Homo sapiens: one gene and its partner. The protein of the gene in region 2 purifies or fractionates together with the protein of the main gene of each other region. This does not show direct contact. Each region holds a gene or a part of one and is shown on either strand. Other genes may lie near its edges.

Evidence for each region.
Region 1: the proteins of ZMYM4 (region 2) and HACL2 purify together in Homo sapiens (affinity purification with mass spectrometry; 2 studies listed by BioGRID and IntAct, with this or other methods). This does not show direct contact.

What each region holds. Positions count from the first base shown.
Region 1 is NC_000019.10:15,115,521-15,122,796, reverse strand, and holds part of HACL2 (2-hydroxyacyl-CoA lyase 2), read left to right. Parts: coding exon 1-104; intron 105-2,715; coding exon 2,716-2,815; intron 2,816-3,281; coding exon 3,282-3,379; intron 3,380-3,494; coding exon 3,495-3,631; intron 3,632-4,781; coding exon 4,782-4,916; intron 4,917-6,274; coding exon 6,275-6,389; intron 6,390-6,475; coding exon 6,476-6,645; intron 6,646-6,725; coding exon 6,726-6,796; intron 6,797-6,875; coding exon 6,876-6,947; intron 6,948-7,125; coding exon 7,126-7,231; intron 7,232-7,276. UniProt on the Homo sapiens protein: Endoplasmic reticulum 2-OH acyl-CoA lyase involved in the cleavage (C1 removal) reaction in the fatty acid alpha-oxydation in a thiamine pyrophosphate (TPP)-dependent manner. Involved in the phytosphingosine degradation pathway.
Region 2 is NC_000001.11:35,264,760-35,271,962, reverse strand, and holds the start of ZMYM4 (zinc finger MYM-type protein 4), read right to left. Parts: upstream 3,255-7,203; 5' UTR 2,917-3,254; coding exon 2,878-2,916; coding exon of another isoform or gene 2,869-2,877; intron 1-2,868. UniProt on the Homo sapiens protein: Plays a role in the regulation of cell morphology and cytoskeletal organization.

The sequences.
Region 1 (7,276 bases), on a different chromosome or scaffold from region 2:
TTTGTGGAGCTGCCCGTTGACGTGCTGTACCCCTACTTCATGGTCCAGAAGGAGATGGTGCCAGCCAAGCCACCCAAGGGCCTCGTGGGCCGAGTGGTCTCCTGGTGAATAGCCCCACCCCTGCCATTCCCTCCTTTATCCCCCGTTCTCTCCTGCAGCTTCCAGCCCACACCCATCCTCCTTTGATTCACATGTGGACTGGGAGGAGACAGCTGGGGGGAGAGCATTCCAGGTAGAAGGAACAGCATGTGCAAAGGTCCTGAGGCAGGAATGAACTGGGTGGGTAGGGAAAGCAAGGCGGCCCTCGTGGAGGCAGCAAAGGGGAGAGGCTCAGGACAGCCCTCCTCCTCCTCCTTTTCCCTTTCTTCTCCTCCTCCATCATCTCTTCTTCCTCCTCTTCCTCCTCCCTCTTCCTTCCTCTTCTCCTCCCTTTCCCCCACCACCTTTCCCATCGTCCTCTCCGTTTTCCTCCTCCTAAAGGATGATCCTTGAACCTCGGAAGGGAGGTTCATTCTTACATTTACAGAGGAGGAAGCTCAGAAAGGTGAAGTCACTTGCCCAAAGTCACACAGCTAAGAAGTGGCAGAGCCCAGGCCGGGTGCGGTGGCTCTCACTTGTAATCCCAGCACATTGGGAGGCCGAGGTGGGCAGATCACGAGGTCAGGAGATCGAGACCATCCTGGCTAACATGGTGAAACCCCATCTCTACTAAAAATACAAAAAAAAAAAAAATTAGCCGGGCGTGGTGGCGGGCGCCTGTAGTCCCAGCTACTTGGGAGGCTGCGGCAGGAGAATGGCGTGAACCCAGGAGGTGGAGCTTGCAGTGAGCCAAGATCGTGCTACTGCACTCCAGCCTGGGTGACAGAGCAAGACTCCGTCTCAAAAAAAAAAAAAAAAGTGGCAGAGCCCAGACTCGAGCCCTCTCCTTCCTCCTCCTTTCCTTCCCTCACATCTTTGTCCTTTTCTTTCTTTTTTTTTTTTTTTGAAACAGATTCTTCGTTCTGTTGCCTAGGCTTGAGTGCAGTGGCGTGATCTCGGCTCACTGCAACCTCCGCCTCCCCCTGGGTTCAAGTGATTTTCCTGCCTCAGCCTTCTGAGTAGCTGGGACTACAGGCGCCCGCCACCACACCTGGCTAATACTTGTATTTTTAGTAGAGACGAGGTTTCATCATGTTGGCCAGGCTGGTCTTGAACTCTTAACCTCAAGTGATCCACCCTCCTCGGCCTCTCAAACATTACAGACATGAGCCACTGCGCCTGGCCTCTTCTCTTCTTCTTCTTCCTTTCCTTTCTTCTCCTCCTCCTCTTCCTCTTCTTCCTCCTTCTCTCCCTTCCCCTCAGTCCCTTCCCTTTGCCTGTCCTTGGCCCTTCCTTTCCATACATTTAGCGAGCGGCAGCCATGTGCCAGGTTCCAGGACAGGCACGGGGCATCATCAGTGGACAAGGTAGTCAGGCTCCTGTACTCCGGATGTGTGTGAAGCGCCTGAGGGTCAGCTCAGGCAGTAGTGATTTTGTTCTATGGCCTCTTTATTTTTTTTGAGACGGAGTCTCGCTTTGTCCCCCAGGTTGGAGCGCAGTAGTGCGATCTTGGCTCACTGCAACCTCCACCTCCCGGGTTCAAGTGATTCTCCTGCCTCAGCCCCCGGAGTAGCTGGGAATACAGGTGCAGTCCACCATACCCAGCTAATTTTTGTATTTTTAGTAGAGATGAGGTTTCACCATTTTGGTCATATAGCCTCATTCTTAATGCACTTTGCCCCCTGGCTTCCCAGTCAGTCCCTCCCCTTGTTCTCCTTGCCCCTCTCTCTTGGGCTGCCTCTCACAAGGCTATCTCTTATCTTGCCTTTTTTGTTTTGTTTTGTTTTGAGACAGGGCCTCACTCTATCACCCAGGCTGGAGTGCAGTGGTATGATCATAGCTCACCACAGCCTTGAACTCCTGGCCTCGAGCAATCCTCCTGCCTCAGCCTCCCTTGCCTTTTCTTTACTTGCGGGGCTTCCCACGGTTCCATCCTGGGCTGCTTCTGTGCTGTCTTGGCCTGTCCTTAACGGTGAAAGCAGAGGCTTCTGACTCTGAGCTCCGACTGTTTCCTGCCAATGCCCATGTGTCTGTCTTTCGCTGGATAGAGCGCCCCCTGAGGGGAGGGCTGGGCAGGATCTATCTTTGTGTCTCCAGGGCCCTGCACAGGTCCTTCAGGAAAGTTGGGGCCCTGGGGCCCAGTGAGCAAGGAGACCGAGAAGACCCTGTTTGAAGCAGGAGAGGACAGTGTTCAGAACTCCCATGCAAAGCGCCTCATGTCCTAAGTGGACAGATCCTTGAACCTGGGGAGGGAGGTTCATATTTACATTGACAGAGGTGGAAGCTCAGAAGGGTGAAGTCACTTGCCCTAAGTTGCACAGCTAGGAAGTGACAGAGCCAGGACTTGAGCTCACATCTGTTGGACCCACAGGCTTAATCCTGGCATGCTGAGCCTGCGTTCCTTGCTTCTGGGGGGCTACGTGGAGTTGGGGTGGACCCCAGAGGCTACCGAGGGCAAACAGGCAGTTGAAGACCTGGCCACTAGGGTTCGTCTGTCCCTGAGGTGTCACTCATCCACCCTGTCCCCATGCCACTTTGCTCCTGGCTTTTCTCCCGGCCCCTTTCCTTGCTCAGATCCTGGAATCCTTGTAGTTAGTTAATTCTGGCAACTTGGTTTCTTCCCCCTCCCTTTTGCAGGTATTTAGAGAATTACCTGGCCAACCTCTTTGCAGGAGCCTGGGAGCCTCAGCCCGAGGGACCGCTGCCCCTGGACATCCCCCAGGCTTCCCCGCAGCAGGTGAATTGCCTCTCTTTTGTGTCTGAGGACCCTACCCTCTCCCTGAGGGGAGAGGGCCCCCTGACCCTCTCCCTGAGTCAGTACTGGGGCCTTAATCTTGGGTGCTCATGGCGACTCAAGGGCGGCCCTTTGGCTGGACGCGGTGGCTCACAGCAGCAATCCCAACACTTAGGGAGGCCGAGGCAGGCGGATCACTTGAGGCCAGGAGTTCAAGACTAGCCTGGCCAACATGGTGAAACCCTGTCTCTACTGAAAATACAAAAGTTAGCCAGGCATGGTGGCACGCGCCTGTAATCCCAGCTACTCTGGAGGCTGAGGCGGGAGAATCGTTTGAACCTGGGAGGTGGAGGCTGCAGTGAGCTGAGATCATGCCATTACACTCTATCCTGGGCAACAGAGTGAAACTGTGTCTCAAAAAAATAAATAAATAAAAAGACAGCCCTTTGATCCCCACCTCTCGCTCCAGGTTCAGCGCTGTGTGGAGATCCTGAGCCGGGCCAAGAGGCCTCTGATGGTGCTGGGGAGTCAGGCCCTGCTCACCCCAACGTCTGCCGACAAGCTTCGGTGAGAAGCGCCAGCCCTGCCCTTGTTTTCACGTTCCCAGTCCCCAGTCCTCGGGTGCTCTTGGGGAGGCGGGAGGCCCCGGCCACACTGACCTCTGCTCTGCCTGGACTCCCAGGGCTGCCGTGGAGACCTTGGGTGTTCCCTGCTTCCTTGGAGGGATGGCACGGGGGCTGTTAGGCCGCAACCACCCCCTCCACATCCGGGAGAACCGCAGTGCGGCCCTGAAGAAGGCGGATGTCATTGTCCTAGCAGGTGGGCCTGAGCCTCTTCCTTTCCCTCCTTCCCCCAGGAACCCCCTCACCCTGTTACCCAGCTTCACACGAAGGAGGAGGAAGGTCTAGTGGGCACCTATTGTACTTGATACACATTTTCACATAAAGCGCTTTGAACCCAACCAGACGCATAATAGGTGTATCAGATAGCTACTGCCCTGTAACAACCATCCCCAAACTCAATGGCTAAAAATGCATTTCTGATTTCTCAAGATCCACCTATAAGGTAGGTGGTAGCTGTGGTTTTGGCTGGGCTCATTCATGAGTCTGCACTTGGGTTAGGCAGGAAGGCAGCTGTGCTGATCCAGGCTGGGCTTGCTCACCTGTATGGGGATTGGCTGGCCCTGCAGCTCGTCTGGGATGGCCTCAGCTGGGGTCATAGAGTTCTTCACCCCTGTCTCCATGGCCCCCTTGTTTCTCATCCTCCAGTAGGCTAGCCTGGGCTGGCCGACTTGGTGAAGGATGAGAAAACTATGGGGCTAGGAGAGTGCGGTTATTCAAGAGAGTGAGTGGAGGCTGTGTGGCTTCTTGAAGTAGAGTCTGCAGGAATGGGGGGTGGGGGTCCTGAATCATCTGGAGGTGTCTTCACTCAGAGGTCTTGCAATTGACGCCAGCTGTTGGAGGGGCTGTGGACTAGGGCAACTACACAGGTCTCTATGTGTGGCTCCGGTTTCCTCCCAGCATGATGGCCTCAGGGTAGTCAGACTTCTTAGACAGAGAGCACATTCCTTGGCCCCACCCAGGCCTCTAAAAGTGAACAAGGAAGAAACTGCATATCTTCCTTGTTGGGTGTCATGGTGTGTCACTTTCAAGGAAAGGGGACCTAGGCTGCACCTCTCTCCATGGGAGGCATGTCAAGGTGACCTTGTACAAATGGATGTAGGGTGGGAGATATTATGGCCATCTGGGAAAATATAACCTGCCTCTGCCCTATCCTGTTGGCCAAAGCATGTCATGAGGCCAGTCCCGATTCAGGGGGTGTGGGGAGCTGCAAGGTCACTGTAGGTGGCACAGGTGCAGGGAGACTCGGTGAGGAACAGGGACTCATTTGCATCCAGTCCACCACAGTGGATCAAGTAAGGTAGACGACATGGGGCCTCTGCCTACTGCATTCCTGTCCCCCACACCAGGAACTGTGTGTGACTTCCGCCTATCCTATGGCCGTGTCCTCAGCCACAGCAGCAAGATCATCATCGTCAATCGTAATCGGGAAGAGATGTTGCTCAACTCAGACATCTTCTGGAAGCCCCAGGAGGCTGTGCAGGGTGAGCCCCTTAATCCCCCCGTACACATATGTGCTCCTCCCAGTCCCTCTCCTCCTGGTTTCTGCTGCAGCTGGCTTGAGCCTGGTACAGTGATTGAGGCCCAGACCTTGCCCTAGGGGTAGCCAGTCAACCAGAGACAAATAGTTGGCTCTCAAACTGATGAATGCTTCTTTCTTTAAATTTTTTTTATTTTTATTTTTTAGAGACGAGGTCTCGCTCTGTCACCCAGGCTGGAATGCAGTAGTGCAATCACAGCTCACTGCACCCTCAAACTCCCAGGCTCAAAAGCAATCCTCCCACCTCAGCCTCCTGAGTAGCTGGGACTACAAGTATGCACCACCATGCCAGGCTAATTTGTTAATTTTTTTTTGTGGAATCAGCATCTCACTGTGTTGCCCAGGTTGGCGTGGAACTCCTGGCCTCAAGTGATCCTCCTGCCTCGGCCTCTCAAAAGTGCTGGGATTACAGACCAGAGCTACTGCGCCCGGCCTGATAGATGCTTCTGTAGGAACAAATGGTGGGGTGGACACAGAGGGAGGCTTGAAAACGTGCATGTGATCACGTTCCCTCCCACACTGCCCACTGCCCTCAGGACAGAGAGCACACTCGTTGGCCCCTTAGCCTGTCTTCCTGCCGTATCTCTCCCCTCCCCTTATTTTAGTCCCCTTGGACTTGAACTTGGTTCATCATTCTGAGGATGTTGACTCCCCTGCAGCCTAGGCGACAGGACACTCTTGTATTAAGCAGAGAAGTAGCACCGTTGCATCTGTGTTGGGAAGGTCCACTCAGCAGCCATGGACGGCAGGCCGGAAGGGGGCTGGGTGGAGGCCAGGGGGGCTGCTCAAAATGGCCAGGACAGAAGCGAGGAGGCCTGAACTGGAGATGAACAGCGGCAGAGCCTCACCTTCTCAGAGCCTCCATTTGATCATTTGAAAAATGGGGTGGTGAAAGATACATCACGGGGCTGTTTGTTAGTTCACTTCAGTAACGTTCGCTGTGCGCTTCCACGTGCCTGGATTTGAGAGATGTGCTTGGTGGATGTAGCTCTTTTCATTGAGTGTTTCCCAGGCAGAAGGAGGTGGAGGGAGGGGACGAGGCCAGCTTGGGTTTGTCACCTGCCTTGTGCTCCTTAACCCTTGTTTCTTGGGCCTTGTCTTCCCTTTTCACCTGGGCTGCCCTCCCCTGGTTCTGGCAGGTTCTGGGGTGTTTCACCTGTTTTTTTTCTAGGAGCACCCCTGGCCTGCTTCCCGTCTGCCTGCTCGGATGCTGCTGCTGGCTTCCTGCTGTTTTGAGGCCTCTGATGCTGGAAGAACAGGAGGAAGCCAGCTCCCCACAGCTGTGTCCTCTTCCTTCCCCAGGAGATGTGGGTTCCTTCGTGCTGAAGTTAGTGGAGGGCCTTCAGGGCCAGACCTGGGCCCCAGACTGGGTGGAGGAGCTGCGGGAAGCCGACCGGCAGAAGGAGCAGACCTTTCGGTGGGGCCTGGGTGGAGTGGATGTGGGAAGGGGGTTCCCGGCAGACCCTGCTGCCAACCCTGGTGACCTTCGCTGTCCTGTCGCAGGGAGAAGGCAGCGATGCCTGTGGCCCAGCACCTGAACCCAGTGCAGGTGCTGCAGCTGGTGGAGGAAACGCTACCTGACAACTCAATTCTGGTGGTGGATGGCGGGGACTTCGTGGGCACTGCTGCCCATCTGGTACAGCCCCGCGGCCCCCTGCGCTGGCTCGATCCTGGTAAGGAAGGGCCCCCGCCTGGGGCAGTGGGCACCATCCATCAGGACGCCTTCACACCCACCTGCTCTTGGTCCTCTTAGGGGCCTTTGGGACTCTGGGAGTTGGTGCAGGATTTGCACTTGGGGCCAAGCTGTGCCGGCCAGATGCTGAGGTGAGGCACTGGAGTTGGGAGACTTGCTGCTCTCTAGGTCCTGATCCACCCTAACCATCCTGGGTCCCCTCCCGACTAGGTCTGGTGCCTGTTTGGGGACGGAGCTTTTGGCTACAGCCTCATCGAATTTGATACATTCGTCAGACACAAGGTGACTGGGCTGGCCTGAGGGAAGCTTAGGGCCTGGGGTTCTGGGAGATGTCACCAGGGGTGGGCTGAGGTGGGGAGGGAGCCTCCTCTCTGGCAGAGGCCCTATCCCTGTCTCTGTCCTCTGGCTGGCCAAGCCATGGGGCTGAAGGCTGCGGCCTGCCTTCATCATCTTCCTGTAGATCCCAGTGATGGCCTTGGTAGGGAATGATGCTGGCTGGACACAGATTTCTCGGGAGCAGGTGCCCTCTCTGGGCAGCAACGTGGCCTGTGGCCTGGCCTACACTGGTGAGGGGGCCTCAGCGAGGTTGGGAGGACAGGAGGCTGTTTCAG
Region 2 (7,203 bases):
GAGAGGGGGTTTCCCTCTGTCACCCAGGCTGGAGAGCAGTGGCAATATCATAGCTCACTGCAACCTCCAACTCCTGGGCTCAAGCAATGCTCCCACCTCAACCTCTGAATAGCGAGGACTAGAAGCATGTGCCACCACACCATTAATTCCAAAAATCAATGAATGTAATTTTCCTCTGTGATGAAACTGGCAAAATAATGGGGGAAACCTATACAAGTCCTGCGTATGTTATAGGTTGTTAAAAATAAAATTAACTTTTGGGCCAGGCCCGGTAGCTCACACCTGTAATCCCAGCACTTTGGGAAGCCGAGGTGTGCTGATCACCAGAGGTCAGGAGTTCGAGATCAGCCTGGCCAACATGGCAAAATCCCATCTTTACTAAAAATACAAAAATTAGCCAGGCATGGTGGTGCTTGCCTGTAATCCCAGCTACTTGGGAGGCTGAAGCAGGAGAATTAATTGAACCCGGGAGGCGGAGGTTGCAACGAGCCGAGATTGCGCCACCGCACTCTAGCCTGGGCAACAGAGCAAGACTCTGTCTCAAAAATAATAATAATAATAAAGTTTTTACTGCTACCAGTATGGTATCTTTTTTTTTTTTTCCAGCATTCCTTTAGCAGAAGATTCACAAGACCAGTAACATCTTTTAAGTGTACGACAAGAGGCAGAATATATTTAAAATCTAGTTGAATTTGTTGTCAACACACATCAATGTTTTCTAGAATATCCTAGAACATCCTAGTACAGAAGGTGAATGACAACATTCACAGCAACTGGATGCAGAAATCTCCCTGAATTAACATTACATATCTTAAGTAATTTACCCTGTATATTTTCATTGGTGGACTATATGCCATATGCCTTCATCCAAGCACAGTAAGGATCTAGTTCAAAACTGAACACAACTTGAAAATTTTAAAATTTCAAAACACATGCATTCCATACACAACATTTATACTTACAAAACTATTTGGACATACCATCATACAGCTTAACTTGCTCTATGACTAATTATTGCATTAGGTGAATCCAACATTTCGTAAACTTATCAATGGTAAAAATTTATTGTTCAAAACACTACGATGAAATGCATTAAAATAACACGACTGATGAACAGAAAGAGGGATAGAGGGGTAAATATATGATAAAACAAGTGGAATGCAATTTTTTTTTTGGAGGGGGTTTTGAGACAGTGCCTCCCTCTGTCACCTAGGCTAGAGTGCAGTAGCACGATCTCGGCTCACTGCTACCACCGCCTCCCTGCTACCACCGCCTCCCAGGTTCAAGCGATTCCCCTGCCTCAGCCTCCCGAATAGCTGGGATTACAGGCACCCGCCACCACGCCGGGTTAATTTTTTGTATTTTTAGTAGAGACGGGGTTTCACCATGTTGGCCAGGCTGGTCTCGAACTCCTGGCCTCAAGTGATCCTGCCGCCTCGGCCTCCCAAAGTGCTGGGATTACAGGCGTGAGCCGCTGTGCATGTCCGGAATGCAATGTTAACAGTAGGATCTAGGCGGTTGGGTGTATGACTGCTCCCCGTAAGTTTTATAATATTGACGGATAGTTCAAAATATTTTCCTAATAAATTGTTGGAAAAAATAATACTTGACACTTCTTTGGTCATTTACAATTTAAGCTTTTAAGGAGAGAAACACAGATTAAAGAAACTCCTCTGTGGCATCCCACACAGGCACTATAGTTGGGACAAACCTGGATTCAAATCCTACCTCAACCTTGCAACTAGCTGTGTGATCTAAGTAAATTACTTAAGCCCTCAACACCTAAATTTCCTCATCTGCAAATAGGTTCTAGGAGGAGTTACTATGAAGTTAAATTCTTCACATAAAGGTCTTAGCTCAGTGCCAGGCACACAGTAAGCACTCAAAACATCAGCTGTAGCATCATTACGAGATTACTAATTTTACGCTAAGCTGAAAGGGCATTCTTCATAAAGTAGTAATTTTTTGCCCTTTTGCTAATTGATCGTTTCTGAAACCATTCCCAAAAGGAAGACTCCTAAAAGGAAACTTACTTCTTATCATGCTAAGCGGGGAGGAAGTAAAAGAAAAGTGAGGGATATTGCTCAATCGATAGTACAGTATTGTTCGCCATCTGAAAAAAACCACTCAGAATTAAATAAGGAAAGTTTCCAGACAAACTTTAAAAGGTATTCAAACAACTCCTATGTAGAATTGGCTTCACCTCTGCAGGTTGATTGGGTACATCCCTGTTATGAGAAAACTTGTCGTATTCTTCCAAGTCCCTAATTGCGAGTAAGAGGCTAGGCTAGAACATGACATTCATAGTAGCCAAAATCTTTCTCCTAAATCAGGACATGCCAACGATCCCACTTCTTCACAGGTAAGACCACCACCCCGACTTTGGTCTAGATAACGGCTATGGGGGGAGGGGAAAGGAGGCAGGAAAATGAATTCGCGATGGTGTTACTGAAGAACCCTCCGGTTATTTCTCCTGAGACCCCTCCACGACTTATTCCCGCCACCACCACCCCCACCTGACCTCTCCCCAGTTAACTTCCAGACTCTGATGTACTAAAGATGCACTAAAGATGCACTTAAGAATCTGACACCTCCCCTCCCTGGGCCTAGATATCCCACCCCAGTGCTGGGGAACGTCGGGGGGAGGAAGGCAAACAACGGCCCCCTCCCCTCCCCCCCACCCAGCACCAAATCTTTGTCCCACCTGCCGAGGGACCGCTCGCCAGCGCGCTCCGGACCCAAGGCTGCCTCAGACCTGCCCGCAACCTTGTCCTAACTGGGCCTCGGCGACCCCTCCACGAACCTGAGTATGGCCCATTCCCGGCCCCGGGCCGCGCCCCGCCCCCCGCCGCCCGAGTTCTGCCTCACCTCACCTACCCTCTTTCGGGGGCCGGACTCCACCTCTCTCTCCGCCATGTTGGGCCCCGCTCGGAACCGCTGCGGCTCCCCGCGCGGTGGCGGCGGTACCTCTCGGCCCCCCGGCCCCCGCCCACACTGCAGGCACGGCCGCCTCGCGGCAGCTTCCCCGGACCCGGCCGGGCCTTGCGCCGAGAGTGGGGAGGGGGCGGATGCCGCGCGCCGGGCCGCAGCTTCTGAGATCCCACGGGTCCGCGCGTGGGCGGGAGGGCCTGCCCGGGGACGGGGTGGGGGCCGGGACTCGGGGGGTTAATGGCCTCCAAGGGGCCCCGTGAGTAGGATTATTTTCTCTCAGAGAAATTCCTCCGCCTGCGGTTTCTTAAAGGGATCACCAAATCAGCCCCTTGCGCGCGCCCCTGATGCGCAGGCGCACCCTAAGTCCCTCCTTCCTTTCCCACCAAGCCCCCGGTCCTGAGCGTGCGCGGTAAGTGGCCATGGGTAGGCCAAATCCTGCAAGTCTCTTTGCTGCCAGCAGCTGCTCCCACCACTCAACTATGGCCGCTCCCTTAAAGGGACCATGACGCAGGGATGAAGGAGAAATGAAAGAAATTACTGGAAAGACAATCTGGAGAATTGGGTGCAATGTCAGTGAAGGGTTCCACATCACCATCTTACACCTGACTACAGTGGTACCATTGAAGAGGGAAAGTCATGGTAAGCTGAAGTTCTCAGTGGACCTCTGAACATGAAGAATCCCAAACCAATGAGGGAACAAGACAGTCATCTCAAGGAAAACCAACTTTCCTCCCTTTCGACTGCCTGTTCTGAAGCACAAGGCATAGAATATCAAGAGCCAACTCCTATAACCTCACCTTAAAATCAAAGCTTTTGGTGATTTTGAAGATTGAACCAACAACTGGAAATAATTTCTTCAATAGTAATTTATCCTTAGAACATCAAAATGGAGAAGGATCTTAGGGAACCATTTACTCCAGTGCTCCCAATGATAAAATTGCAGCCTGATCATGGGAAGGAATTTGTCCCAATGTAACTAATGGCTGGTGTGGAGTTGGAATCAAGATTACAGTCTCAGTCCTCCAGGCTGTCTTCAGGCGAGAGATAAATTTGGTTTAATTTGATATCCCTAGAAGATTAAAAATTGAAGTTTCATGGTATTTGGAGAATATCATAATTCTCTTGTGAAGATGTAATGATTTGCAGATGATGGGTGTCCTCATTCACCTCTATTGAAGGAGCTTGACAATCTGCCTTAAAGGATAAGCATCTTATTTCTAAGCAGGAAACCAGGAAGTAGATTTGGGTCTATCTTGTTCCAAAACTGGGTCCTAAGCTGAAAATCGCTGAAAAGAATGAGGGCTTCATTCATTCCTCTTCTGTTCATTCTAGTTCCCACAAGCTTTGGGTGCAGAAAAAATTAAGTTTATAATGATAGTTCAGGGACAGTGGGGAGACATATAGTAAGAAATACAAAGAAGATGCCTCCTGAAGGTCATTTCCCATGACAAGACATATTCAAGTGGGAATGATAACTCCTGAAGTCACAGGATAATGAGATGTAACTTCTGTTTTCTGTTTTATTTAGCACTTGGTAGCTATTCTGAAACAGATGTTTTCTAATCTGTAATATTTTGCTGAAAACTTTTGGTGAAATTGCTGGAAGTTTCCATACTGGCCTTGCTTATGCCTTTAGCACTGTCTTTAATTTCACTCCTCGGTAGGAGAGAAGAAAGAAGGACAAAGAAATATGTTCATTTCAGCCAGAATTTTAAAAACATGTTCCCTTTAGTTCCATGTCCAGGACAAGAAAGAAAAGAGGAGCCAAGAAAAGATAATTCCAGGGAATGTGGCTACATAAAACTTGTAGTGGTTTCCACCTGTTTTATTGGCAGTGGAATACTCCCTTCTAATAAAATCTGGTGGTTTAAAATGTGGAGCTGCTAAGTTGGGAGTGTAAGTGGGGAACCCACTAGTCTATTCACCCAGCTTCACCCTTGCACTCTCTCTCCTTTCATGCCCCCTCCCATCATTACAGAAATGTTGAGTTTCTCAGATCACAGTTTAAACTTATTAGTTTAGTCTAACTCCACATTTTCAAGATGAAGCCTCTGAGGCTTAGAGAAGATATGATTTGCTTGAGATCACACACAGGATTAGTAACAGTATCAAGACTGAAACAGACATCTTGATCCTCAGGGCTCTGTCCTACACAGACTGTTTCTGGAGGTATTAGCAATGTGTTAGGTCTCGAATAATAGGTGGGATTTGTGCATTTCAGATAATATACAAGCATAACATGAATGTTCAGGGCAGTCATCCATATGGAGGAATAAGACAAGAGAAAACCATTTAGTGAGCACTGAAAAGTTAATCATAATTTTATAGAAGGATTCACAGAGCTTAAGTGACTAGTCCAAGATCATTCAGCACAGAGGCCAAGTCAGAATTCAAAGCCTTGTTCTTTCTGACTTATTTGAAATATCGTAAAGTAGACATTGTAAATTGGTGGCCTTGTGACCAAATCTGTCCCACAGAAATGCATTTGATTTGTATTGTGTATAGCTATATGATCTTGGTCAAGGTAATTGTCCTGTGCCTCACTTTCCTTATCTGTAAAATGGGACACCAAGAGGATTAAATTAGTTAACATCTCTAAATCTCCTAGAACACTGTTGGTTCCTAATACCATATGAGTATCATTATTATTATTATTATTATTTTTTGAGACAGAGTCTCACTCTGTCATCGAGCTAGAGTGCAGTGGCGCGATCTGGGCTCACTGCAAGCTCCGCCTCCCGGGTTCACACCATTCTTCTGCCTCAGCCTCCCGAGTAGCTGGAACTACAGGCACCCGCCACCATGCCCGGCTAACTTTTTGTATTTTTAGTACAGACTGGGTTTCACTGTGTTAGCCAGGAGGGTCTTGATCCCCTGACCTTGTGATCCGCCTGCCTCGGCCTCCCAAAGTGCTGGGATTACAGGCGTGAGCCACCGCGCCCGGCCATTATCTTTTTTTTAAAAAAAAAAAGTTAAATCATATATCAACATTTTAAATGGGATATTTCACCTACAAGTTCAGTGCTCTGACTTGTTTCAAAAAAAAAAAAAAAAAAAAACTAGACTATAATGGGGCTAGTATCTTGCAAATATCAAACAGATTTCTTTTAACTTTCTTAAGTCATCTTCTGTCATAGACTCTTGCTTGAAATGTAGCCTTGAGACTTATTTTCCCAATCAGGAGAGAACAGAATGGAGAGAAAAAGAATTTGCTAAATTTTCTTAGTTCCATTTAATCTATGAAGCTCAGCACATAATAATTTCATAGAGTTTTTACATACTCCACAGGAAATGCCTTCCACCCAAATATCCTTCCATCCAGGACAGCTAAGCCATGAGGCTGCATATAGGGAAATAAAAGAAAAGTCTGACTCTTTTAATAAAAGGGTAGAGAGAAGAAGAACAAAGAGAAAAGTAAGAGAGGCATCATTGAGAGACATGTGCTCCTGTCTTCCCATTCCAGCTCTTCAAGGCAGAGAGGATTCTTACTCTGCTCCTGTTTAAGATTCCAAGTAGAGATGACTTGCAGACTATGCCCATACCAACAAGCAGACAGCCACATATGAGCAAAAGTCATGCCCTGATGTAGTTGGGAAAAAAGAGCAGGTCTGCATTTAGCTCCTCAGAGTGTCTCTCAGCCAGAGATGAATCCAGGTTTTACAGATCTTGAAGCTTACATGATGGGGGGAGAGGGAGGGTTTTTTTGTTTGTTTGTTTTGTTTTGTTTTTAAGAAAAAGAACACAGAATTACATACACAAAATTAGGTACAGGGTTTTGGGCGGAGCTCTGCAAGTGAGTGGTCCTTAGCTCCTGCGAGAGAAGATATCCAGAAGTTCCCACATACCCTGTAGAAGAATACGGAAAGTAGCCAAGAATGCTGGCTGGCAAGTATAGGAGGAAGTAGCTCTGTAAATTACACTGGGCCAGGAACAAAAAGTAGTAACAGCCAGACCTCAGGAAGAGCTGTGTGGTTTGCCTTCAGGCTCTGAGCAAACTTAGCGAGGCCAGGCTACAAAACATTCCACTCTCTTAACAACAGGCTGTAGAGCATCCTGAGAGGTCAGGGACTCCGAATAGATTCAAGGTCTCAGGCTTCCCCAAAGTCATAATGCCTCATAAATGCAGACGTTATTTTAGATACTCACTCAGAGGGAGAGGGCAGCCACAGGAAAGATACAGTGTTTCTTTCCAAAAGAAATTATTAACTAACAGAATTCTAACCATTAGATTCAAATATGTTTTAAACTACATTGGACATTTAGGTAGATCCA